Regions from separate parts of the Homo sapiens genome. Here regions 1, 3 and 4 are each linked to region 2. Evidence: fine-mapped QTL for protein levels in blood plasma. A gene starts in region 2. Each other region holds a variant in brackets. All regions are shown on one strand. Distances are from middle to middle.

Region 1 (6,068 bases), 63 kb after region 2:
TTCCTGGAGGCCCTTCTTGCACTGAAGAGCAAGGTGATGGAGCCCAGATGGACTGTAGCCATCTTCCTGAATGCAGGAGAGAGATTGGAATTTGGGACTACTGTGGTAGCTAGGATTTTATAGGCCTGCTGAGAATGAGAATGGATTTGTGGATGAAAGGAGCTCCAGGGGCACGCATAGTAGTCTCCTCGAATCTTTGGCTAAACATGACGTTGCATGTGCCCAGAAAAAGGTTCCACAAGAAAGTAGAGAAAAGAATATATCCTGAGGAATAGCAACTGCGATTGAACAGTGAGCTCAATAAAGAGGACAGAGCCCTCATAGCATTCTGGGATACTGGAGTTCTGACCAGCTGGAGGAGAGACCTCACTGAACCTCTTGGGAATACAGTAGAGACTCCAGAAAAGTCATACTTTAGGAGTAGAATTAGTAAATTTCTAGAAAAAAAGGCAGCTCTAGACAAACCCTGGCAAAACTGAAAAGCAAGTCTCCAAGCATTAAAATCATTTCCAAGTCAATTAACTGCCTGGGAGAGGAAAACCCTCTTTAGAGGTAAACAACAAAGTCAAGTGGCTCAGCTATGTGGTGTTCACAGTGTGAGTTCTAAATTTAAAACTTGACTACACATAGAGAAGCTTTTAGTATGAACCATGACCAGGTGAAAAATCAGTCAATACAAATAGACCTAGAAATGACAGAAATGATTAGAATGGCAAAAAATTTGACATATCAATATGTCAACTGAGTTTTAGGTTTTAAGAAAACATGAATACGGAATGAAGCAGATACCATATCAAGAGACAGTAACAGTATAGAAGAGCCAAATTAAATTAAAGAACTAGTATAAGAAGGTATGTCTTAAATGAAAAAATTACTGGATGTATTCCCAATGGAGTGAGATGTTTCAGAAGTAAAAACTAACTGAAAAACAATTTTATACCACCTACAGAACCAGCTACACATACACAAATGACACACACATATACACACATACTCACACATGCACAGGCTTAGAAACATGCACGCACACACACACACACACACACACACACCTCCACAAATACTAAAAAATGAAATCCACTGATCCTCACAGACAGGCGGGAAAATATAAAAAGATTTCCTGCATGTGGGTAGGAAGTCACAGAAGGAGAGGAAGGAGAGATTGCTACAGGAACAAATACTGGAAGCAAGGATAGCTAAAAACTTTTCAAATAAGAAGAATATTAAAAACCACAGATTCAAGAAGCTGAATGAATCAGACAGGGAATTTCCAAAAAAAAAAAAAAAAAAACTGTATGATTCACTTTTGTACATCACCGTTCAACAGTCAGAAGGCAAAGATATAATAACAAGAAACATCTCATGAGAAACTGGAGGAAAAAGAGCTGTGTCTTGCTAGAAGAACAGTGATACAAATTGCTAATGCATTCTCATCAGAAACACTGGAACCCAGTTAACAGGGGATATCATTAAAATGATAAACTAGAAAAAAAAGAGATCAAATGAGAATGCTACATCCAGCAATAAAATGCCTTGAAGATCATCCATGTTGGATAAATGCATATTGTGCACTGCCCCAAATAAATAAACCAAAAACTAATAATTTGGAATCAGCAGGCTTGTGTAACAAGAGATGTTGCCCAAAGAAAATTAGCTAGAAGAAGAATAGTTCAAGAGGAGAACTTTCTGCAGCCCACGTAATGAAGAACCCAGCAAATGGCAAATGTAGATGTAAATGCAAAATATTTTCTTGATCAAATTTCTATATCTTTTTAAATGAGAGTTGACTACTTGAAGCAAAATGATAGCAATATATTTAACTTTAGCATATGTAGAGGTAAAAATTTGAACATATAGACTAAATCATGTGGGGAATAATTGGAAGTGTACCATTGTAAGTTTCTTACCTTATCCACGATGGTATGTAATATTAATGAAAGGTTGAATTTGTGGGTCCAAAGGGATATTGTAAATCCTAAAGCAATCATAAAATTTTGAATTCTGAGGGATATTATATAATAAGAATTTTCCATGTATCCAAAAGAGGGAAGCCAAGGAAGAAAAAGAAGTCTTTCAAGTACTCAAGCTCTGAGCACATCCAGTTGCTCATTGAACCAGCTTCCTGGAATGGAGGGTCTGGGCTTGAGACTAGGTCACATGTGTAGAGTCTCTAGAGAGACAGTGTTGGATCCCCATGGCCCATAATACATTTCCCGTTTTCCCAGGCAGCCACAGGTCACGAATGGGAGGATTCTGAGAGGTTGGAGCAATGTTCTTAGGAGGCATAAGGAGGAGTGAATGCTCTGAGATTTCCCCAGCCTGAGGTCCTCCATAGCTGCCCGACCTCTTCAGACCTCATAGTCTGCCCAGCTGTCTCCCTTTATGCCATGAGTGCCACTGTTCTTTCAACTCATCCCCCATTCCCTCAGTCCCGGAATTGCTGTGGCCAGCAGAGGATGGACTGAGAGCAGGAGAGGAAGTCCTGACCAGGAACCCATCCTAGAGATACTGCATCCTGCCTGAAAGCTAGGTTTCCAGGGCAGCTTTGAGAAGTCTTGCAGAAAGAAACCCACTTGACCCACCTGATACGGTATCGACAGACAGGAATACTTTTTGTGCAATGGTTTTACATGCTGAACATAGAGCCTTTTGGCTACATTTTGAGTACATTGAATGAGACTGCTGGCCTGGGAAGGATATCATGCTGGATGCCATTTTTTTCTCTGGAGAACTATGTGTTAGTTCCAACTCGCACATTACTATATGAAGTCCTACACAGAGAGATACGGAGAGCTAGACAGATAGAGATACTTTTGTATGTGCATAACCAATTCCACAATACACACGTCAAAATCCATACCAGTTATTCCAGAGAGATGGATTGGGCAGAAGGCAGAAGGAGGATATTCTGATCCCTTTTTGGCCACATGTATGTATAATCTCAGTGTTTCTAGGAAGTGTGTGCTGCATTAGATTTTTTTTCTTTAAAAAAAGTGATAATATATTAAGTATGAGAAATGTGCAGAGAGGATTAGAGATTGAGAGCCATTTGTCATTGTGGCAATTGTATGGTATCTCTTTTGGGAATATTTCAAAGGCACCAGTAATGACCTTGTTGTAGCAAAATATACAGTGTTCCTGCATATGTACCCATTTTTTGTGATGTGTATTCTTTTGGAATTTCCAGTGGCTTGATCAAGAACTACTGCC[G/A]AAATCCAGATCCTGTGGCAGCCCCTTGGTGTTATACAACAGATCCCAGTGTCAGGTGGGAGTACTGCAACCTGACACGATGCTCAGATGCAGAATGGACTGCCTTCGTCCCTCCGAATGTTATTCTGGCTCCAAGCCTAGAGGCTTTTTTTGAACAAGGTAAGAAGTTGTGCCAGACATTTACCTGCTTGGATGCTGGGATGAAAAGCCATGGATACCCCCACTGACGCACAACCCTTCAGTGCTACACTGGTTCTCGTGTGTTGGTTCTGGGTCTGCCATGTGGGAGGAAGCCTTAGCGCACTCTCTGGGGGAGCCAGAGGTGTGATTTTTGGTGCAACCTGTGCGAGCTGTGTCTTTAGGATGGGCGGAAACCATTCTGGGTGCTCGACTTCACCACTCCCCTCATTGTAAAAGGGGCTATCTCATTGTCCTAGACAAAATTCTTATTGTAATATGCTGTCAGATGTGTGTGTCTTTCCAAGCCAGTAAACTTTTCCAGGGATTTCTTCAAGTAGACAGCATTCAGTGCAATCTTCAGCATTGCAGATTCCGAGAAATGTGGCTCTAGATCCTGTTATCCTTGAGAAACCTAACTGGGTTGCATTAATTCCATATCTCCCTGGGTCTGTGGAGTAGTACATGAGCTCCCGAAGCTCTATCTCTCAGGTCTTTTTCAGTCCGAGGCAGGTTGTGCAGTTCTTAGCTTTGAAGGGAGTGATTTTTTCGTGTGCTTTTGCCTCTTTCTGATGGAACTTGTACCTGCGGGGGGTCTGGAGAAAAAGAGTAGTAGACTTTTGCTTTATTGCAATGCATTATGCTGGGCACGAGAGGATTCCCTATCTTATTGTAGGTGATAAGCTTTTGGCCTCCACTCATCCCTGAGAAGTGAAGTGTTGTTGCCTACAGTTTTAGCTGCAGGACTGTTGTCTGCCCCATCACCAGGAGTTTAATGCTTTCTTTTTTGAGCAATCATCTAGGGACACATGCAAGGTTTTTATATGTCCTTGCCTCCTCCCCAAAAAACCATTTTAATGCTTGGAGACTTGCTTTTCAGCTTTGCCAAATGCATCACCCTTTCTTCTATGCTGTTCCATGTCGTCATGAACACTCTGTAGAGATTCCTAGAAATGAGCTTCCATGTTAGTGGAGTTTCCGATGAGAAGCAATCTGATATTTCTTTTCCACTAAGTTTTACATGAAATATTTCTAAGAACTTACTACAGTTCTAGAATGGTAGGCATCTCTTACTTTCGTGTTTGTTTGTGTGTTTTCTCATGTCCATTTGCCTATTAATAAAGAATAGAGAATGGTTGTAAATCTCAGTGACTCTTTTTTGGTTTATGTCATAAATGGCTTCCTGTATTTTTCTGTTCTAGGAAATAATAAGCTTGATGTCTTCTGTTTTAATTTCAGCACTGACTGAGGAAACCCCCGGGGTACAGGACTGCTACTACCATTATGGACAGAGTTACCGAGGCACATACTCCACCACTGTCACAGGAAGAACTTGCCAAGCTTGGTCATCTATGACACCACACCAGCATAGTCGGACCCCAGAAAACTACCCAAATGCGTACGTCTTTGTTCTTTACCATAAGCGAAGGAAGGGCCAATGGAAGTTTCTGTTAGAAGAGTCATGCTTCAAGGTGACTGCTCAGGACTCAACTTGGCTCAGATGCAGAGGAACATTTCCTGTGAGCAAAAGTTCTTAGAGAAGACTTTGTTTTTTTGAGACAGAGTCTTGCTTTGTTGCCCAGGCTGGAGTGCAGTGGCATGATCTCGGCTCACTGCAAGCTCCGCCTCCCGGGTTCACACCATTCTCCTGCTTCAGCCTCTCTAGCAGCTGGGACTACAGGCACCCACCACCACACCCGGCTAATTTTTTGTATTTTTAGTAGAGACAGGGTTTCACTGTTCTAGCCAGGATGGTCTTGGTCTCCTGACCTCGTGATCCGCCTGCCTCAGCCTCCCAAAGTGCTGGGATTACAGGCGTGAGCCACCGTGCCTGGCTGAGAAGACATTTTTTAAGCTGGCTCTCCTTCCTCCTAGTTTTATGGAAGCAGAAGGATATATGGAGTTGAGAAGATCTTATTAATAAAACAGCCGGGATGACAAATGACCAAAGAGTTAGAGTATCCTTCTACAACATCGGCTGAGGGTTAATACAACCTTTTCACCTTGGAATTCTATCATTCTAAGCTCTAGTCCCTGAAGTGAATGTTGTGTTGGCCTTTTGCATCTTGGGTCACAGGGAATTGATACTTGCACATCTATGGAGAGGCAAATCTTTTTCTATCTACTTCTTTTTCAATGGGTACAAACACACTTGGTCCTGAGCACCAGTGGTCTGAAGAGATACGGTCTGCCCAGAGGAGAAGAACAAAGGCAGGAAAGCAGATGAGAGTCAGCAAAGGGGCGATGCTGAAAAGTAAAAGGGGCGGGTAGATGGACAGAAGCCATGATCTGGCCATTCTATGGCCAGTCTTTCGGCCATAAGTGACTACCAAAGACACGGCAAAACGGTTTCCACATGTTGAACAACAGATGCTAGAGGACCAAGAGTATTGCAAGAGGGAGAAAATGAGATCAACCCATCAATGCCTTGGCTTTCTTCAAGGAGACCCTTCCTGCACTGAAGAGCAAGGAGATGGAGCCCAAGCTGACTGTAGCCATGTTGCTGAACAGAGGAGAGTGATTGGACTTTGGGATTACTCAGGTAGTTAGGATTTTCTAGCCATGCTAAGAGTAAGAATGGACTTGTGGAGGATAGGAGCTCCAGGCATAGAAGTCTCCTCAAGTGTTAGTCTAAACATAAAGCAGCACTTGCATAGAAGATTTTCCACAAGAAAATATGG
Region 2 (6,068 bases):
AAACACAACCAGGAGAATCTTCACTCTCCCAAATTGTCAAAGAAGTATAAATTAGAAAATGAATCAGGACAATTTCAACCTGTTAGATTAGCTAATATTTAAAAATTGAACACTCATACAAGTGTGGTGAAGTGATTGTTTTCTAGTGACATTTTACACTGTCATAACCTTCTAGAAAATAAATTGGCAGTGTTATTGGGAGACAGAAATATGTCTATATAATTTATGGGAACTTAGGCTCAGAAAATATTAAGGAATAAGAATGAACTTTATGAACAAAGATGTGGAGGGTTGGAAGCAAGAGGGGGGCCAACGCGCACGGGGAGGAAGCATTTGGGCAGTGACTCCGCAGACCCAGGCTCAGGTTGAACTAGACAACCTCCTTACACCTCAGTTTCCTTAACTGTAGAGCAGGAGTGATGGAACTGCCTGTTTCATAGGACTGTTGTGAGGATGAAGTGAGATACACCACATTATAAGCTTGTGCCTGGAAAGGATAATGCTTAGTAAATGATGACTATTCTTTTTTATTGCAATAAAATGTACACAGCGTAAGAGTTACTATTTTAACCATTTTTGCAGGGTACCACCAAGTGGCATTTAGTACATTCACAGTGGTGTGCAACCATCATCATATTTCCAGAATATTTTCCTCATCCCCAAAGGAAACCTCATGCTCATTAATCAGTAGCTCTCCTTTAAAATATTAGTTATGAAGATCATAGCACTATACAAAACTCATTATGTAATGTTGAGTGAAAAAATCAGGGTGTGAAATTTTGTGATATGATGTAATTAGTGAAAGAAGCATACAAAAAGTCTGAAAATATAAAAACAATAGCAATTGCATTTCTCAGACTCTACATTTAAACATTATTCTTTATGGTTTTAAAAGCAAAGAAAAAGGTAAAGAAACAACAACCAACCGCAAAGCACCATGACAAAGCTCAGATTGTTAAATCCAGGTTTTTGGAACATAGACTCTTATATGACGTTTACACTCTCCAGGGTTCAGAGAGTCTGGCAGCATTGGGAGCTGCCTTGTGTTCTACAGCCTCACGGACAGACAGGAGGTCCATCACCACTGCTCTGTTCTTCTGGAGTTTCCTTGTGAACATGTTGTGGACGTAGTTACCATTTCTTTCATCTTTTTAAACACAGGTACCTTTGGGGCTGGCTTTCTCAAGGAAGCCCAGCTCCCTGTGATTGAGAATGAAGTGTGCAATCGCTATGAGTTTCTGAATGGAAGAGTCAAATCCACTGAGCTCTGTGCTGGGCATTTGGCTGGAGGCATTGACAGTTGCAAGGTAAGAAAAGATCAAGAGACCAAAGTTAGTCTTGTGCTCTCCTGTCTCAGTCTCAGTCCCTTAGACTTGAGTCCCAAAGTAGCGAATTCAAGTAGGATTTAATCAATGGAAGACCCCAGTCTAAGTGTTGCTCAGAAACTCCCTAGATCTGTCCCAAATGTATATTCAGATCATCCAAGGGGACTTCTTGGGGCTTGAGTTCCAGATCAGCAGCAAGGGAGCCATAAGTGCCATAACTACCTCAGACCACTCACCCTCCTGGGGTGTCCCGGTGGCCAGGGACTAAAGTGGTGATTTTTCTGGTAGGGAAGGAGGTAGAGGGTACAGGACAGAGACTAACTGCACACAATATCTGAGACTGGAGCTCAGATATTGCTGATGATCAGAGTTGGCGTGTCTCCCCAATTGATTTACAACTGGGGCTTGGATACTGTTTTAAACGGGAGGAGCCTCCTAACCATCTTGACACAACCACTGACGTGACTACACTAGAGATAGACTCTTTCCACTTAATTCTACCACTCTTGCTTTACTTCATGAGAACGAAAATGTAAGATTGCACCATGAATTCATTTGCGGAAAGATTGATACTATGCTTTTATTTTATTTTATTTTATTTTATTTTATTTTATTTTATTTTATTGAGACTCTCACCCCGGTTGAAGTGCACTGACGTGATTTTGGCTCACTGCAACTTCCACCTCCTGGGTTCAAGTGAATACTCCAGCCTCCCTAGTAGCTGGGATTACAGGTGCCCACCACCACGCCTGGCTAATTTTTGTATTTTTAGTAGAGATGGGGTTTCACCACATTGGCCTGGCTGGTCTCAAACTCCTGACCTTGTGATCCACCTGTCTTGGCCTCCCAAAGTGCTGGGATTACAGAGTTGAGCCACCGCACTCGACCCTATGTTTTATTTTTAAAAATATTTATTTATTTATTTAAGCCACAACTACTAGAATAGGAAGGATTGATATTTTATTAATTTTATTTGGTATTTATTATTTTTTTTTCTTTCCTGAGACATTCTTGCTCTGTCACCCAGGCTGGAGTGCAGTGGCACATTCTTGGCTCACTGCAACCTCCATCTCCTGTGTTCAAGCAATTCTAGTGCCTCAGCCTACTTAGTAGCTGGGATGACTGGCATGTGCCTCCACACCCAGCTAATTTTTGTATTTTTTGTAGAGACAGGGTTTTGGCATGTTGCCCAGGCTTGTCTCAAACTCCTGGCCTCAGGTGATCCATCTGCCGTGGCCTCCCAAAATGCTGGGATTATAGGCATGAGCCACCACCCCCTCCTGGAAGGATTGATATCTTATAACATAATTTATAATTACAGAAAACATGTGAGTTCACTAGGAATAAATAAATTTTGAAGATAATAAAAGATTTTCACTTATGTTGTCATTTCGGCACAGTTTGGTATAGGATGTGGAGATGTTAACATTTATACCTAGCTTGCTCGTAAACTAAGACCTGAAAGGGTTGTGTCTATCAGCTGCACCCCTGGGTAGCGACACAACCTCGGGAAGGCCTCAGCCCCCTCCTCGTACAGCACTGCCTGTTGGAAAGCTTGAGGGAGGCTATGGATGTGCAGCACTTGGCAGAGGGTCTGGTCATGGAAGTTACCAGCAAATATGAGCTACTTTTATGATTTTATTTTATCCAAAAGAAAGAGAATGAAAGAAGAGGGGAGGAAACAAGACTAATCAGGAAAGATGAAGGTCTAGGGGTGAGGGAAGGAGTAAGGAGACATAAAGGCAATGTGGAGCAGCTGAGGGGGGAAATGGCTTTCACCACTTCCCAGCATCTATTGACATTGCACTCTCAAATATTTTATAAGACTCTATATTCAAGGTAATGTTTGAACCCTGCTGAGCCAGTGGCATGGGTCTCTGAGAGAATCATTAACTTAATTTGACTATCTGGTTTGTGGGTGCGTTTACTCTCATGTAAGTCAACAATGTCCTGGGATTGGGACACACTTTCTGGGCACTGCTGGCCAGTCCCAAAATGGAACATAAGGAAGTGGTTCTTCTACTTCTTTTATTTCTGAAATCAGGTAAGACATAGTTTTTTTAAATTATAAGAATTATTTTTTCTCCCACAATGTAGTAAAAATACATATGCCATGGCTTTATGTGCAATTCATTTAATTTTTGATTCATGAAATTCCCAGTTCAAAATCTTGTATATGATTGAAAAATTCTTAAAAAAATAAGTTTAATTTCCCCGTGAAGACTGTCACGGTGCTGGAATGAATGGGCAGAAAAAATAATGGTTGATTTTTCTAATCTAAAAGAGTGTGCCTACATGATGGCCAGTCTGGCTGAAAAATAAATAGCCATTGTAGCTAACTATGCAAAGGATGGCTAAGCTCTTCGCTTGGTTCTCAGTTTCATTAATTTATATCATCTCTGTTCAGGTGCCATGCTCCCCTCACTAGCAAGTTGAAACAATGAAATAACTCTTTGAATATGTTTGGTTCCTTGACCTGTTCATGGAGTGGGACTCAGCATTTCTCTCTTTGTTATGGCCTGAGTAAGGCTTTCCATCGGTATACATTTGCTTCTTATCCCTGGAGAAATTATACACATCCATTTGCCAGATGATATACGCATATAATGATTCAACAAATACTCAGGGTATTTGTTGAGTGGGTTAGGTCCCCACATTTTTATACATACATACACACATACACACCGTGTGTGATTGTGAATGTAAGTGTGTGTCCTTTACAAATACTAGCTTATTTAGCTCATGGTATAGGTAGGGTAGCATAGTCATCCCCATTTTATAAACAAAGAAATCTAGACTTAGGAAAATCATGTTATTTGTCTCGTGACCAAATTCCCAAATCAAGGAAATAAAGAAACCTGGATTTAAGCCAGATTTCCAAGAAAAAATCTAGGGCTCTTCTCACTTTTTCATCTTTGTTCCAACATTTGAAAAAATAAATCTAAACACATTCCAATGTAACTGAAGAGCAGGTTAATTGTTTGCCACTTGCAGAATCCAATTAAGAAGAGAGAAGTCTGGTATAAAGAAAGTGATTTGCTTCCAAAGCTAGCTTAGGGGAAGAAATGCAGCAGTCCTGCCGTACTACTTCACTTTAGGAGCAGAAAGTGGCACTTTTAAAAGGCAACAGAGGAGGCGAGCAAGGATTCAGGGGTCCATGCTAGCTTGGGCACCTTATCCACCAGGTAGTTGAGCAGTTGCCTGCTGGTGCCTTTGTGAGCAGGGTGTTGTCCCTTGAGGCAAATCTCTGGAGGGTGAGAGTTTTGTAGTGGGCATGCTTTGGTTTATAAATCACCTGTGAACTCAGGAGTTCCATCTTGAAGCACATACATAGTTAGATGAACTTGCCCTGCAGGGAGAGTCTGATGAAAGGGAGGTAGATGCTTGCAATTTAATCTATAAATTACCAGATAAAATTTTACAAGTTGACTTTAAAGTCAAACACATTTGAATTTAGTGGAAGCCATTCAAGAAAATATCAAAGAAAATACAGAGCAGGAGAAGATTAAGCAAAGAGTTTTTTGGGGAAATTGGTGTCTATGTCTGTGTGTGTAGGGAGTGCAGGGGATATGAATATTCTATTTCAGCCCATGGAAACTAGGATGTAGATCACTGTGAACTTATTCAGCAGGCTACACCCAAAGGCTAGAACAAACTTCTCTGCCACAGGATTAACATATGTTTTAATCGACCTGGGGGGCACATTCTCTGATAAGCTCTTTTGGAAAGCCAGGCTTTCTGTGGACGTGTTATCTTTCCAATGTGTGCTGGAATGCCCGGGGAGAGGAAAAAGTTTCTTTTACAGCCATGCTCAGTGAGAAGCGGAGAAACATCTTCTATTCACAAATTGCTAAGTCTTTTACACATGCAAATATGCATACACATTCACACACCACAGTGAGGAAGAAATTCTCACACCATTAATAAAATACATTTACTTCAGTAGCAATATACATCTACATTTTGCCTATAATATAAAAGTATTTTTCCTATTAAAAGATTTGTTTAATGTTTCTTCACCAACAAATAAACCCTATTAAATCCCCATTGCCATATGAGCCCTGGAGGTGAATCAGAGAAACAAAAGGATTGTGGAAAAATCATCAGGTTAAAAAAAGAAAAATTGATTCTGTTTTGGGATATTTCCTAGCAACATGAGCTGGGGAGGGGATCTCAGCAGTGATGCTCTATGAAGCATAATAAAATGACACAGTTACAGGTAACTTAGTTAAAGGGGGAAATAAATGGAAGTTTCCTCTTTTTGAATATCAATTGTAGCCTGCTCTGCTACATTTCAAAAACACTCTTCAAAATGTTTAACTGAACTCACTGTAGGAAGCACCTTATTAATTTATTGTGTGTTTTGAAGTCACACTGTGAGCTATAGAATTTACCCAAGCACAACTCTTCCTGGAAAAGAGAGTTCAAATGAGAAACAGTGCGGGGTGAAGACATGGATATGGGCCTAAAATATCTATTTCTCAATGATATTTTGATATATCTATCAAGTGCTTTTTAGTGGATTAGGTTCAGAATGCATCAGCCAATGCCTGTTCAATAATCCAGTTTTCCAGCATAGAGCATATTAAATTGAGGAAGGACAAAGTCACAGAGGTGGGGAGCAGGTGGACTGTGGCCAAGGACTTTGCATGAAACAGTGAGCGTGCATCCTCCTCCTTGCCCTGCCCTCATGGTCTGTGTACTCTCAGGAGGTCAGGACAGGCCTTTCTGAGAATGAGAATC
Region 3 (6,068 bases), 72 kb after region 2:
GAATCTTCTCCCATCTCTGGTGACCTGTGTTGTTTTGAAATTTGCAGTGGCCTGACCAGGAACTACTGCAGGAATCCAGATGCTGAGATTCGCCCTTGGTGTTACACCATGGATCCCAGTGTCAGGTGGGAGTACTGCAACCTGACACAATGCCTGGTGACAGAATCAAGTGTCCTTGCAACTCTCACGGTGGTCCCAGATCCAAGCACAGAGGCTTCTTCTGAAGAAGGTAGGAAGTCTATGGCCAGACAACCACACCCTAGGACGTTGGGATGAAAAGAGTTGCAAAATCTTAGTGATATAGAAGCCTTCCATGCTCACACAATTCCAAGTAGAATGTGGACTCAGGGTCAGCCACTGGGAAGGAACACTCAGCGCCTTCTCTGGGAGAACCAGAGCTGTGATGTTTGGTACCCTGTGAAAGGGTGGTATCTATAGGAAGGGTGCAGACCCTCTAGGGCACTGGACTTACCACTCCCCTGGTTATTCAAAGGATCATTTTAGTGTCTTAGCCAGAAGAATATTCTAACATTTTGCCAAATTTGTGAAGATTTACCAAGCTCATGATAAGCCTTTCATGGTATTTCTTCAAGTAGTCAGTGTTCATTGCATCTTTGGCTTTGCGGTTTCGGAGGAATGCGGTTTTTGAGTCTGTCATCCTTGAGAAACCTAATATGACTTTTCTTAGTTCCATATACTTCTGGGTCCAGGTAGCAGTACATAGCCAACAAATGCTCCATCGTTCTGGCCTATCTCCATCTTAAGCCAGTCCTGCACAACTAGGCTTTGATGGGAGGGATCTCTCAGTGTTCTTGCCCCTCCTTCTCATGGAACATATATCTGTGTTGGTCTCTGAGAAGAAGAGTAGTGGATATCTACTTTGTTGCAATGCAGAATCCTGGGCCAAAGATACCAGCCATCCCTCCAAGGGAATAAAATTTTGGCCAGTAGCCCTCTCTGAGAGACAATTTGTCTTTGCCTACGAGTCCTAGATGCAGGACCGCTTCCTGCCCCATCTTCAAGAAGCTGAAGGCTTTGGCTTTGGAGGATCAGCAGTCTAGGGAAATGTGTGACGGTTTCATGTCTGTCCCCACTGACAGTCAATCACCACCTACAACCTGCACAGCCTGATGCATAGCAGTCTAGTTTCCTGCCTTATTCTCAGGAACACCCAGAAGATGTCTATATTAAAGAGCATGCACATGAGTGCAATTTTGACTGATAGGCACTCTGATCTTTCCTTTGGTGCCTGTGTTTTAAAGGAAATCTTTCTAAGAACTCGTTAAAGTTCTAGAATGCTATGAATCTTTGGGTTTTATTATTGGTATGTCCATCTGCCTGCTAGTACAGAACAGAGCATGGTAGTCTTTCTCAGAGACAATGATCCTGTTTCAGTCACAGATTTCTTCTGATGCTTCTGTGTTCTAGAAATTACTCAGCTTGATTTCTCCTCTTTGAATTTCAGCACCAACGGAGCAAAGCCCCGGGGTCCAGGATTGCTACCATGGTGATGGACAGAGTTATCGAGGCTCATTCTCTACCACTGTCACAGGAAGGACATGTCAGTCTTGGTCCTCTATGACACCACACTGGCATCAGAGGACAACAGAATATTATCCAAATGGGTACAACCTTGAGTTTTCTTCAAAGACAGACAGCAGCCCCCTTACATTTCTCTTGGAAGGGCCATGCTTCCAACTAACTTCTTATGACAAATTTATCTCAGATCTGGAATGTTGGGTAGAATGTCTCAGGCTTCTTTCTTCAGGCACAGTGTCTGAAAGGAGAGAAATGTCAGGCCAGCTCTCTTTTCTCATAGTTGACAGAAGCAGGAGGATATTTGAAGGTGGTGAGTTCTCATGAATAGAAAGCTCAGGACACATGGCCACGTGCTTAGAAATAGCACCATTCCACAATGCCCACTAAAGACCAATGCAATAGTTCAACCAGGGATTTCTGTCATTCTAATCTCCAAGTCCTGAAGTGAAGGTTGTATTAGCCATGTTCATCTTGGGCAACAAATAAAGGATATCTATGTTGACATCCAGATCTTCCAATCACTTTCTCCTCTAACCTGTACCTGGGTTCTGAGAACAAGGTATCTGAAGAGCTATGTGTTGCCAGCACATGAGGGGCAAAAGTAGGAAGGCAGCTGAGAGTCAGGAAGTATAAAGATTCTGAAGAGTTACACATGCAGGAAGATGGACAGAAACCCAGTTCAGACCACGTCAGCGTTTCTGCCATGAAGGACTATCAAATACATAGGAAAAGTGTTTTCATAGGTTGGACAACAGACATGACAGGCCTGAGAAAATTCAGAAAGGGAATCAAAGGAGATCAACCTTATCATGTCCCTGGCATCCTTCCTTGAGACCCTTGAAGGGCAAGCAGATGGAGCCCAGCTGACCACAGCAGTCTTGCTTAACTGAGGAGAGAGACTGGAGTTTGTGATGCCTCAGGCATCTGACGTATTCTAGGCTGGCTAAGAATGAGAGGGGATTTGTGGAGGAAAGGAGCTCCAAGAATACACACCGAAGTCTTCTCAAGGCTTTGGCTAAATACAAAGCTGCGTATGCACAAGGAGAGTTTTCACAAAGAAAGAACAATAAAGAAAAGCTACTGGGGAAAGAACAACTGCAAGGGAACAGTGAGCTCAATGGAGATGCTAGAGCTCACATAGCACTGGGGGATATTTGAGTTCTGACCACTCAGAGGAGAGACACCTCACTGAACATCTTGGGCATTCAGTAGAGGTCAAAGAAAGCCATAATTTGGGAGTAGGATCTTCGGATTCCTAGAAATAAGGTGACTCCAGAAACACTCCAGCAACCCTTCTTCCAAGCCAGTCTAAAAGGATCCAAATGATTTCCAAGTAAATTAACTGCCTTCCAGAAAAAAGTAAACTCAACCCTCCTTAGAGGTAAGGAACGAATACAAGTTTCTCAGTTATATGACATCCCCAGAGTGCAACTTGCATTTAAAAATTTACTAGACACAAAAGAAGTTTTCACTGTGATCCATAACTGGGAGAAAAATCACTCAACACAAATAGGCCCAGAAATAATAGAAATTATGGCATTGGCAAGAACATTTAAAATGCACCTCTGAGAACTGTGTTTCAGGAAAATGTCAGCAAAAGCTGACCATGAGAGAAATGAATGCATAATATCAGAAAAGAAAAGAATTGAAGAGCCAAATGGAAATTTAAAAACTGAGAAAAGTTATATCTGTAATGAGGAATTCACTGGATGGCCTTATAACCAGTTTAGATATTATGGTAGGAAAAGGTGAACGAGAAAATGATTCAATTAAAGCTAGACAAACCACAAGACAGACAGACAGACACAAATACACATACACACAATGACTGAACCAATTAATCAACAGAGCCTCAAGGACATCTAGGAAAACATCCACACATTTAATATATGTGTTAGGCAAGTCACAGAAAGAGAGGAAAAAGATAATGTGACAGAAGTTATACTTGAAGCCATGACGGCTGACAAATTTCCAAACATACAGAAAATGAGAAATTCATAGTCATGAAGCTCAATGACTCAGGTATAGATTTTTAAAGAGCAAAACTCTGATTTACTGGGGT[A/G]CATCATAGTTAAATTGTCTGATTTCAAAGCTAAGAAGAAAAAAAGGGGGTTCCTATGAACAAACATTTTGACAGTTGATCTAAGACCACAGCTTAAATATCTAGGCAAGGAAAAGCAAATAAGACACAAGGAAAGGGGATGGATGGAAATAGTCCAAACCAATGACATTCAGTGAACAAGAAAATAGACCAACAAAGGAGTAAATCCATGAAACAGAAAGTTGGTTCTTTGAAAAGATTCATGTGATTGACCACAGTCTGGCTGAACAGATGACAGACCAAGGAGGGAGTACAACCATCACCATTTGAAGTAACAGGGGAGAGGAGCCATTGCTATACCATACTCCAGGTCTGAAAGCTGACAAGAAGATATCAAGAAAAACTGTATGTGAATAAATTCATGAATGTAGATCATGTGGATCAATTCCTTAGGTAAACAACAAATCAGCAAACCAGATACTGAATAGATTGGGTACTCCTATAGAAAGACATACAGATAGCCAGACAGAGAAACATTTGTACGTGCATAAAACAATCTACAAGACTCACTTCAAAATCTCTCAGTTAATCCAAAGTAACATATTTGGCAGAAGGTGGAAGGAGGGTATTCTGATCCTTTCTTGTACACATTGATGTTTTCTCTCGGTTTTCTTATGGAGTATAGACGAGTTTGGATGTGTTACAATAAGAATGATAATCTGTCTTTGAAATGTTCACAGTTGTTTAGAAGTTGAGGACGATTTGTGATTGTTACAGGACCTTTAGTGAGAATATTTCAAAGTCACTTTTTACCACTTTGTTACAACAAAATGTAGAGGATGTCTGGTGCCCTTGTATCTTCTCCCATCTCTGGTGAACTGTATTGTTTTGTAATTTGCAGTGGCCTGACCAGGAACTACTGCAGGAATCCAGATGCTGAGATTAGTCCTTGGTGTTATACCATGGATCCCAATGTCAGATGGGAGTACTGCAACCTGACACAATGTCCAGTGACAGAATCAAGTGTCCTTGCGACGTCCACGGCTGTTTCTGAACAAGGTAAGAAGTCTCTGGCCAGACAACCACACCCTTGGACGTTGGGATAAAAAGAGTTGCAAAATCTTAGTGATACAGAAGCCTTCCATGCTGCACGGGAATCTGAATGTGGACTCAGGGTCAGCCAATGGGAAGGAAGCCTCAGCGCCTTCTCTGGGGGAACCAGGGCTGAGATTTTTGGCACCCCGTGACAGGGTGGTGTCTTTAGGAAGCGTGCAGACCTTCTAGGGCACTGGATTTACCACTCCCCTGGTTATTCAATAGATTATTTCAGTGTCCTAGTGAAAATGGATATTCTAACATCCTGCCAAATTTGTGATGATTTACCAAGCTCATCATGAGCCTTTCCTGGTATTTCTTCAAGTAGACAGTACTCATTGCAAACTTCAGCTTTACAGTTTCAGAGGAATGTGGTTTTTGAGTCTGTCATCCTTGAGAAACCTGATATGACTTTACTTAGTTCCATATCCTCCTGGGTCTAGGTAACAGTACATAGCCAGCAAATGCTCTATCTCCCTGTCTACCTTAATCTTAGGCAGGTGCTGCACACCTAGGCTTTGATGGAAGGGATTTCTTAGTGTTCTTGCCCCTCCTTCTCATGGAACACGTATCTGTGTTGCTGTTTGTGAAGAAGAGTAGTGGATGTCTACTTTGTTGCAATGCAGGATCCTGGGCCCAAGATTTCCCGCCGTCCCTCCAAGGGAATAAAATTTTGGCCAGTACCCCTCTCTGAGAGACAATGTGTCTTTGCCTGGAAGTCCTAGATGGAGGACCACTTCCTGCCCCATCTTCCAGAAACTTAAGGCTTTGGCTTTGGAGGATCAGTGCTCTGGAGAAATGTGTGACGGTTTCATGTCTGCCCCCACTGACAACCACCACCTACAGCCTGCACCGCCTGATGCATGGCACTCTGGTCTCCTGCCTTGTTCTCAGGAACACCCAAAAGAGATCTTTGCCAAAGAACAGGCACATGAGTGCAATTTTGACTGATAGGCACTCTGATCTGTCCTTTGGTGCCCAGGTTTTAAAGAAAATCTTTCTAAAAACTCATTGAAGTTCCAGAATGCTATGAATCTTTGAGCTTTGTTATTGGCATGTCCATCTGCCTACTAATGTAGAACAGAGCATGGTCGTCATTTTCAGAGATGATGTCCTGTTTCTATCATGGATTTTTTTTCTCATGCTTCTGTGTTCTGGAAATTACTCAGTTTGTTTTCTCCTCTTTGAATTTCAGCACCAACGGAGCAAAGCCCCACAGTCCAGGACTGCTACCATGGTGATGGACAGAGTTATCGAGGCTCATTCTCCACCACTGTTACAGGAAGGACATGTCAGTCTTGGTCCTCTATGACACCACACTGGCATCAGAGAACCACAGAATACTACCCAAATGGGTATGTCTTTGAGTTTTCTCCCAAGAGAAACAGCCACC
Region 4 (6,068 bases), 79 kb after region 2:
AGTGTTGGATTGAAGGACAAGCAGATGGAGCCCAGCTGACCACAGCAGTCTTGCTTAACTGAGGAGAGAGACTGGAGTCTGCGATGCCTCAGGCAGCTGATGTGTTCTAGGCTGGCTAAGAATGAGAAGGGATTTGTGGAAGAAAGGAGCTCCAGGAATACACACAGAAGTCTCCTCAAGGCTTTGGCTAAATACAAAGCTGCGTATGCACAGGGAGAGTTTTCATAAAGAAAGAACAACAAAGAAAAGCTACTTGGGAAAGAACAACTGCAGGGGAACAGTAAGCTCAATGGAGATGCCAGAGCTCACATAGCACTGGGGGATATTTGAATTCTGACCACTCAGAGGAGAAACACCTCACTACATTTTGGGCATTCAGTAGAGACCAAAGAAAGCTGTATTTTGGGATTGGGATCATCTTATTCCTAGAATCAAGGTGACTCCAGAAAAACTCCAACAACCCTTCTTCCAAGCCAGTCTAAAAGGATCCAAATGATCTCCAAGTAAATTAACTGCATTCCACAAGAAAAAAAAAACTCAACCCCCCTTAGAGGCAAGGGACAAATACAAGTTGCTCAGTTATATGGCATTCCTATTGCGTTACTTCTATTTAAAAATTTAATAGAGACACAAGAAGCTTTCACTGTGATACATAACTGGGAGAAAAAATCACTCAACACAAACAGGCCCAGAAATTATAGAATTGATGACATTGGTGAGAACATTTAAAATGCACCTCTGAGAACTGTGTTTCAGGAAAATGTCAGCAAAAGCTGACCATGAGAGAAACAAAAGCAGAATAGCAAGAGAAAAGAAAAGAACCGGAGAGCCAAATGAAAATTAAAGAACTGAGAAAAGGTACATCTCTAATGAAGAACTCACTGGATGGCCTTATCATCACTTTAGACATTACGGTAGGAAAGGTGACCTAGAAAATAATTCAATAGGAGCTACACAAATCACAGGACAGACAGACAGACCAACAGACAGAAACACACACACACACACACACACACACACACACACACACACACACACACAAAGACTGAACCTATTAATCAACAGAGCCTCAAGGGCATCTAGGAAAAATCCACACATTTAATATATGTGTTAGGCAAGTCACAGAAGGAGAAGAAAAAGATATCATGACAGACATTATACTTGAAGCGATGATGGCTCGCAACACGCCAAATATACAGAAAACAAGAAACTCATAGTCAAGAAGCTAAATGACTCAGGTATAGAATTTTAAAGAGCAAAACTCTATGATTTACTGGGATATATCATAGTTAAGTTGCCTCAATTCAAAGCTAAAAAGAAAAAAAGGGGGTTCCTATGAACAACAGCTTTGACAGCTGTTGATCTAAGACCACAGCTTAAATATCTAGGCAAGGAAAAGCAAATAAGGCACAAGGAAAGAGGATGGAAGGAAATAGTCCAAACCAATGACATTCAGTGGAAAAGAAAATAGACCAACAAAGGAGTAAATCCATGAAACAGAAAGTTAGGTTCTTTGAAAAGTCTATATGATTGGCCAAAGTCTGGCTAAACAGATGACAGACCAAGGAGGGAGCATATCCATCACCATCATGAGTAACAGGAGAGAGATGCCATTGCTATAGCATCCTCCAGGTGTGAAAGCTGAGAAGTAGATATTGAGATCAACTGTATGTAAATAAATTCATGAATGTAGATCATGTGGATGGATTGCTTAGGTAAATAACAAATCAGCAAATCAAACACTGAATAGATCATGCAGTTTTATAGAGACTTACAGACAGCCTGACAGATAAACATTTGTATGTACGTGAAACAATCTCCAAGACACACTTCAAAATCCCTCTCGGTTAATCCAAAGGAATGTATTTGGCAGAAGGTAGAAGGAGGGTATTCTGATCCTTTCTGGTACACATTGATGTTTTCTCTCAGTTTTCTTATAAAGCATAGATTACTTTGAATGTGTTACAATAAGAATCATAAGCTGTCTTTGAAATGTTGACAGTTGTTTAGAAGTTGAGGACCATTTGTGAGTGTTATGGGACTTTAGTGAGAATATTTCAAATTTGCTTGTTTACACTTTGTTACAAGAAAACATAGAGGGTGCCAGGTGGTGCTGTATCTTCTCCAATCTCTGGTGACCTGTATTGTTTTGGAATTTGCAGTGGCCTGACCAGGAACTACTGCAGGAATCCAGATGCTGAGATTCGCCCTTGGTGTTATACCATGGATCCCAGTGTCAGATGGGAGTACTGCAACCTGACGCAATGTCCAGTGATGGAATCAACTCTCCTCACAACTCCCACGGTGGTCCCAGTTCCAAGCACAGAGCTTCCTTCTGAAGAAGGTAAGAAGCCTGCAGTCAGACAACCATACCCTCGGACATTGGGATAAAAAGATTTGCAAAATCTTTGTGATGCAGAAAACTTCCATGCTGCACAGGAAGTCGAAGGTGAAGTCATGGACAGCCAATGGGAAGGAAGCTTCAGTGCCTTCTCTGGGGGGACCAGAGCTGGGATGTTGAGTGCCTTGTGAGGGATGGTGTCTTTAAAAGGGGCACAGACCCTCTAGGACACTGGATTTATCACTTCCCTGTTATCAAACGAATCATATTAGTGTCCTAGCCAAGATGGATATTCTAACATCCTGCCAAACTTGTGAAGATATACCAAGCTCCTAAGCCTGTCCAGCCCTTTCTTCAAGTAGGCAGTGTTTATTGCAGTCTTCAGCTTTACCATTTTGAAGGAATGCCATTTTTGAGGCTGTTGTTCTTGAGAAACCTAACATGTCTTCATTAGATCCGTATTGTCCTGAGACTTTGAAGCAGTACATAGCCACCAAATTGTTTATCTCCCCAGCCTACCTTCATCTTGGGCATGCCTTCCACACCTAGGATTTGAGGGAAGGGATTTCTCAGTGTTCTCATCCCTGCTTCTCATGGAACATTTATCTCCGTTGTTTTTTGAGAAGAAGAGTAGTGGATGTCAGCTTTCTTGTAATGAGGGATCCTGGGCCCAAGATTCCCTGTCTCCCCTCCTAGGCTATAAAATTTTGGCCTGTACTCCTTCTCCCTGAGAGGCAATGTGTCTTTACCTACAAGTCCTAGATGCAAGATCCTTTTCTGCCCCACACCCCAGAATCTGAAGGCTTTTGCTTTGGAGGAGCAGTGGTCTAGTGTGCAAGGGTTTCATGTATACCCCCCACTAACAGCCAATCACCACCTATAGCCTGAACAGCTTGATGCATGGCACCCTGGTCTCCTGCCTTGTTCTCATGAACACCCAGAAGAGGTGTAAGCAAAAGACCATTCACATGAGTGTAATTTTGAAGTATAGGCACTCTGATCTGTTTTTTGTTTGTTTCTTTGTTTGTTTGTTTTCCAGGGTTGAATTAAAATATTTATGACTACTTATTAAATTTCTAGAATCCTATAAGTCTATTTGTATTTTTATTCTACATTTCAATTTGCATGCTAATATAGAAGAGTGTAAATTGTTAATCCTCAGATTATTCCACTTTGTGTGTCATAATTTTTTTCACATTTCCCTTTTCTAGGCAATACTGAGCTTGATTTTCTCTTTTAATTTCAGCACCAACTGAAAACAGCACTGGGGTCCAGGACTGCTACCGAGGTGATGGACAGAGTTATCGAGGCACACTCTCCACCACTATCACAGGAAGAACATGTCAGTCTTGGTCGTCTATGACACCACATTGGCATCGGAGGATCCCATTATACTATCCAAATGC[G/A]TATGTCTATCATGTTAGCCATAAAAGGAACAATAGTCAACTAAAATTTCTCTTAGCTGGCCCATGCTACAAGCTCACTTCCTAGGTCCAAATTTCTCATAGACTCAGAGTTTGTAGCAAAATGTCTCAGGAAACTTACTTTTGAGCAAAAGGTCTGAATGAAGAGAAGTTTTAGGATTGCTATCTTTCATAACAATTTGATGGAAGCAGCAGGATATATGGAGGTGGTGAAGTCTCATTAATGTAAAGCTAAGGAGATCAAATGACCAAATGCTGAGACAAAGTATCATTCCACAATGCCCACTAAAGGTCCATGCAGTCTTTCAACCATGCAATTCTATCATTCTATCCTCCATTCCCTGAAGTGAAATTTGTGTTTGCCATTTTTGACACGAATCAGAAGTAACAAATTCAGGCTGGGTGCAGTGGCTCAGGCCTGTGATCCCAACACTTTGGGAGGACAAGACGGGCAGATCACCAGAGGTCAGGAGTTCAAGACCAGCCTGGCTAACATGGCAAAACCCCATCTCTACGAAAAATTAAAAAATTAGCCGGTCATGGTGGTGGGTACCTGTAATTCCAACTACTTGGGAGGCTGAGGCAGGAGAAACACTTGAGCCTGGGATTCAGAGTTTGCTGTGAGCCGAGAACATGCCACTGCACTCCAGCCTGGGTGACAGAGCAAGACTCAATCTCAAAAAAAAAAAAAAAGAAGAAGAAGAAGAAAAGAAGAAGAGGAAGAAGAAGAAGAGGAAGAAGAAGAAGAAGAAGAAGAGGAAGAGGAAGAGGAGGAGGAGGAGGAGGAGGAAGAAGAAGAAGAAGAAGAAGAAGAAGAAGAAGAAGAAGAAGAAGAAGAAGAAGAAGAAGAAGAAGAAAATAGAAATGAGTGCATATATTTATATATGAGTACTAGCCTGTATGAACACACTGGGTTCTAAGCACCAGTTTTCTGAAGGGATATGGGTTGTCAGGCAGAGTAAAAGCAGGAATGCAGATGAGAGTCAGGAAGTAAACAGATGTGGTGATTAAAATGGGCAGGTACATGGACAAAAAAATGCATGTCTGACAAAAACTGGCCTCTTGCCATAAGTGAGTATGAATAATATGGAAAAACTGTTTGCACATGTTGAACAGCAGACAGTACAACCTGAGATAGTTTAGAAAGGGAAACAAATAAGATCAACCCCATAATTACCCTTCCTAGACTTAAGGGCAAAGAGTTTTAACCAAAGCATTCCACAGCAGTCTTGCTAAACTGGGGAGAGAGACTGGAGTTTTGTTTACTAATAAAACCGAGATTTTCTAGGTTAGGTAATAATGAGAAAGTATTTGTGGAGAAAAGGAGCTCCAGGAATACACACAGAAGTCTCTTCAAGTCTCTGGCTGAACAGAAAGCTGTGTATGCACAGAAAGAGTTTCCAGAGAGAAAGGAGAACAAAGAACAGCTACTGGGGAAAGAACAACTGCTGGGGAACAGTGAGCTCAATGAAGATGCCAGAGCTCACATAGCACTGGGAGGTATTTGAGCTCTGACCAGCCTGAGGAGAGACACTTCATTGAACATCTTGGGCATTCAGCAAAGACCCCAAAAAACCATACTTCAGGAGTAGAATTAATGCATTCCTAGAATAAAGTCTACTCCAGAAACACCCTAGAAAAGCTTAGAAACCAAGTCTAAAAAGATCCAAATGATCTCCAAGTAAATTAATTGCCTGTCAGAAGAAAACAACCTCTTCAGAGGTAAACAACAAAATTAAATTGCTCAATTATATAGTATGCACAATGTGTGGCATACATTTAAAAATTTGCTAAACATACAAAAAGCATTTAGTGTGACCCATAACCAGGAGAAAAATCAGTCAATACAAATAGACCCAAAAATGATAAAAATAACAGAATTGGCAAGGAGATTTAAAATGTATGTATCATAATTGTGTTCAAGGATTTAAAGAAAGCGTGGACAAGAAATAAATAAATGGATAATATCAACAGAAAGAAAAATTGTAAAAGGACCAAATGGAGAGTCAAGAACTGAAAAAAAAGACATCTCTTTAATGAGAAAATCACTACATGGCCTTATAATCATATTAGATAGTACAGATGATAAAGCTAACTAGAAAATATTAGGGTGGTGCAAACCATAGCACGCTTATACAAAGCCTGAGAAGATAAACAGAGCCTCAAGGACATCTATGAAAATATCAAAATATTTAATATTTGTTTAAAGCAAGTCACAGAGGAAGGGAAAGAGATATTGGAACAGAAAAAATACTTGAAGCAGTGATGGCTGATGACTTTCTAAATATGGAAAAAATGATAAA

Which allele goes with the higher level. Alleles are on the strand shown, and positions count from the first base shown. The strength of an association depends on the size of the effect and on how common the allele is.
As copies of A replace G in region 1, the plasma level of the protein whose gene starts at base 3,260 in region 2 goes down (moderate association).
For the plasma level of the protein whose gene starts at base 3,260 in region 2, allele A in region 3 goes with a lower level than allele G (strong association).
In carriers of allele A in region 4, the plasma level of the protein whose gene starts at base 3,260 in region 2 tends to be lower than with G alone (strong association).

What was found. PIP is the posterior inclusion probability: the model's chance that the variant is causal. Protein levels are from antibody-based Olink assays in UK Biobank. Linkage for the fine-mapping came from a reference panel and not from the study's own genotypes, which makes the PIPs less certain.
Region 1: its variant is fine-mapped to the plasma level of the LPA protein (UK Biobank, PIP above 0.99). The variant lies in the coding sequence of LPA. If it changes the protein, the assay may bind it differently, which can mimic a change of level.
Region 3: its variant is fine-mapped to the plasma level of the LPA protein (UK Biobank, PIP above 0.99).
Region 4: its variant is fine-mapped to the plasma level of the LPA protein (UK Biobank, PIP above 0.99).

Annotation. Positions count from the first base shown.
Region 1 is chr6:160,598,218-160,604,285 of GRCh38, reverse strand. LPA (lipoprotein(a)) reads left to right here. Exons shown (of 39, transcript NM_005577.4): 19 at 3,188-3,369; 20 at 4,627-4,786. Among named protein-coding and RNA genes, the nearest start is that of LPA, 63 kb to the left of the region's middle. The variant G/A (reference allele first, on the strand shown) is at 3,211.
Region 2 is chr6:160,661,467-160,667,534 of GRCh38, reverse strand. It overlaps LPA (lipoprotein(a)), which reads left to right and starts at 3,260. Exons shown (of 39, transcript NM_005577.4): 1 at 3,260-3,369. The coding sequence starts at 3,321.
Region 3 is chr6:160,589,515-160,595,582 of GRCh38, reverse strand. LPA (lipoprotein(a)) reads left to right here. Exons shown (of 39, transcript NM_005577.4): 21 at 48-229; 22 at 1,466-1,625; 23 at 4,482-4,639; 24 at 5,871-6,030. Among named protein-coding and RNA genes, the nearest start is that of LPA, 72 kb to the left of the region's middle. The variant A/G (reference allele first, on the strand shown) is at 3,602.
Region 4 is chr6:160,582,725-160,588,792 of GRCh38, reverse strand. LPA (lipoprotein(a)) reads left to right here. Exons shown (of 39, transcript NM_005577.4): 25 at 2,163-2,344; 26 at 3,588-3,747. Among named protein-coding and RNA genes, the nearest start is that of LPA, 79 kb to the left of the region's middle. The variant G/A (reference allele first, on the strand shown) is at 3,748.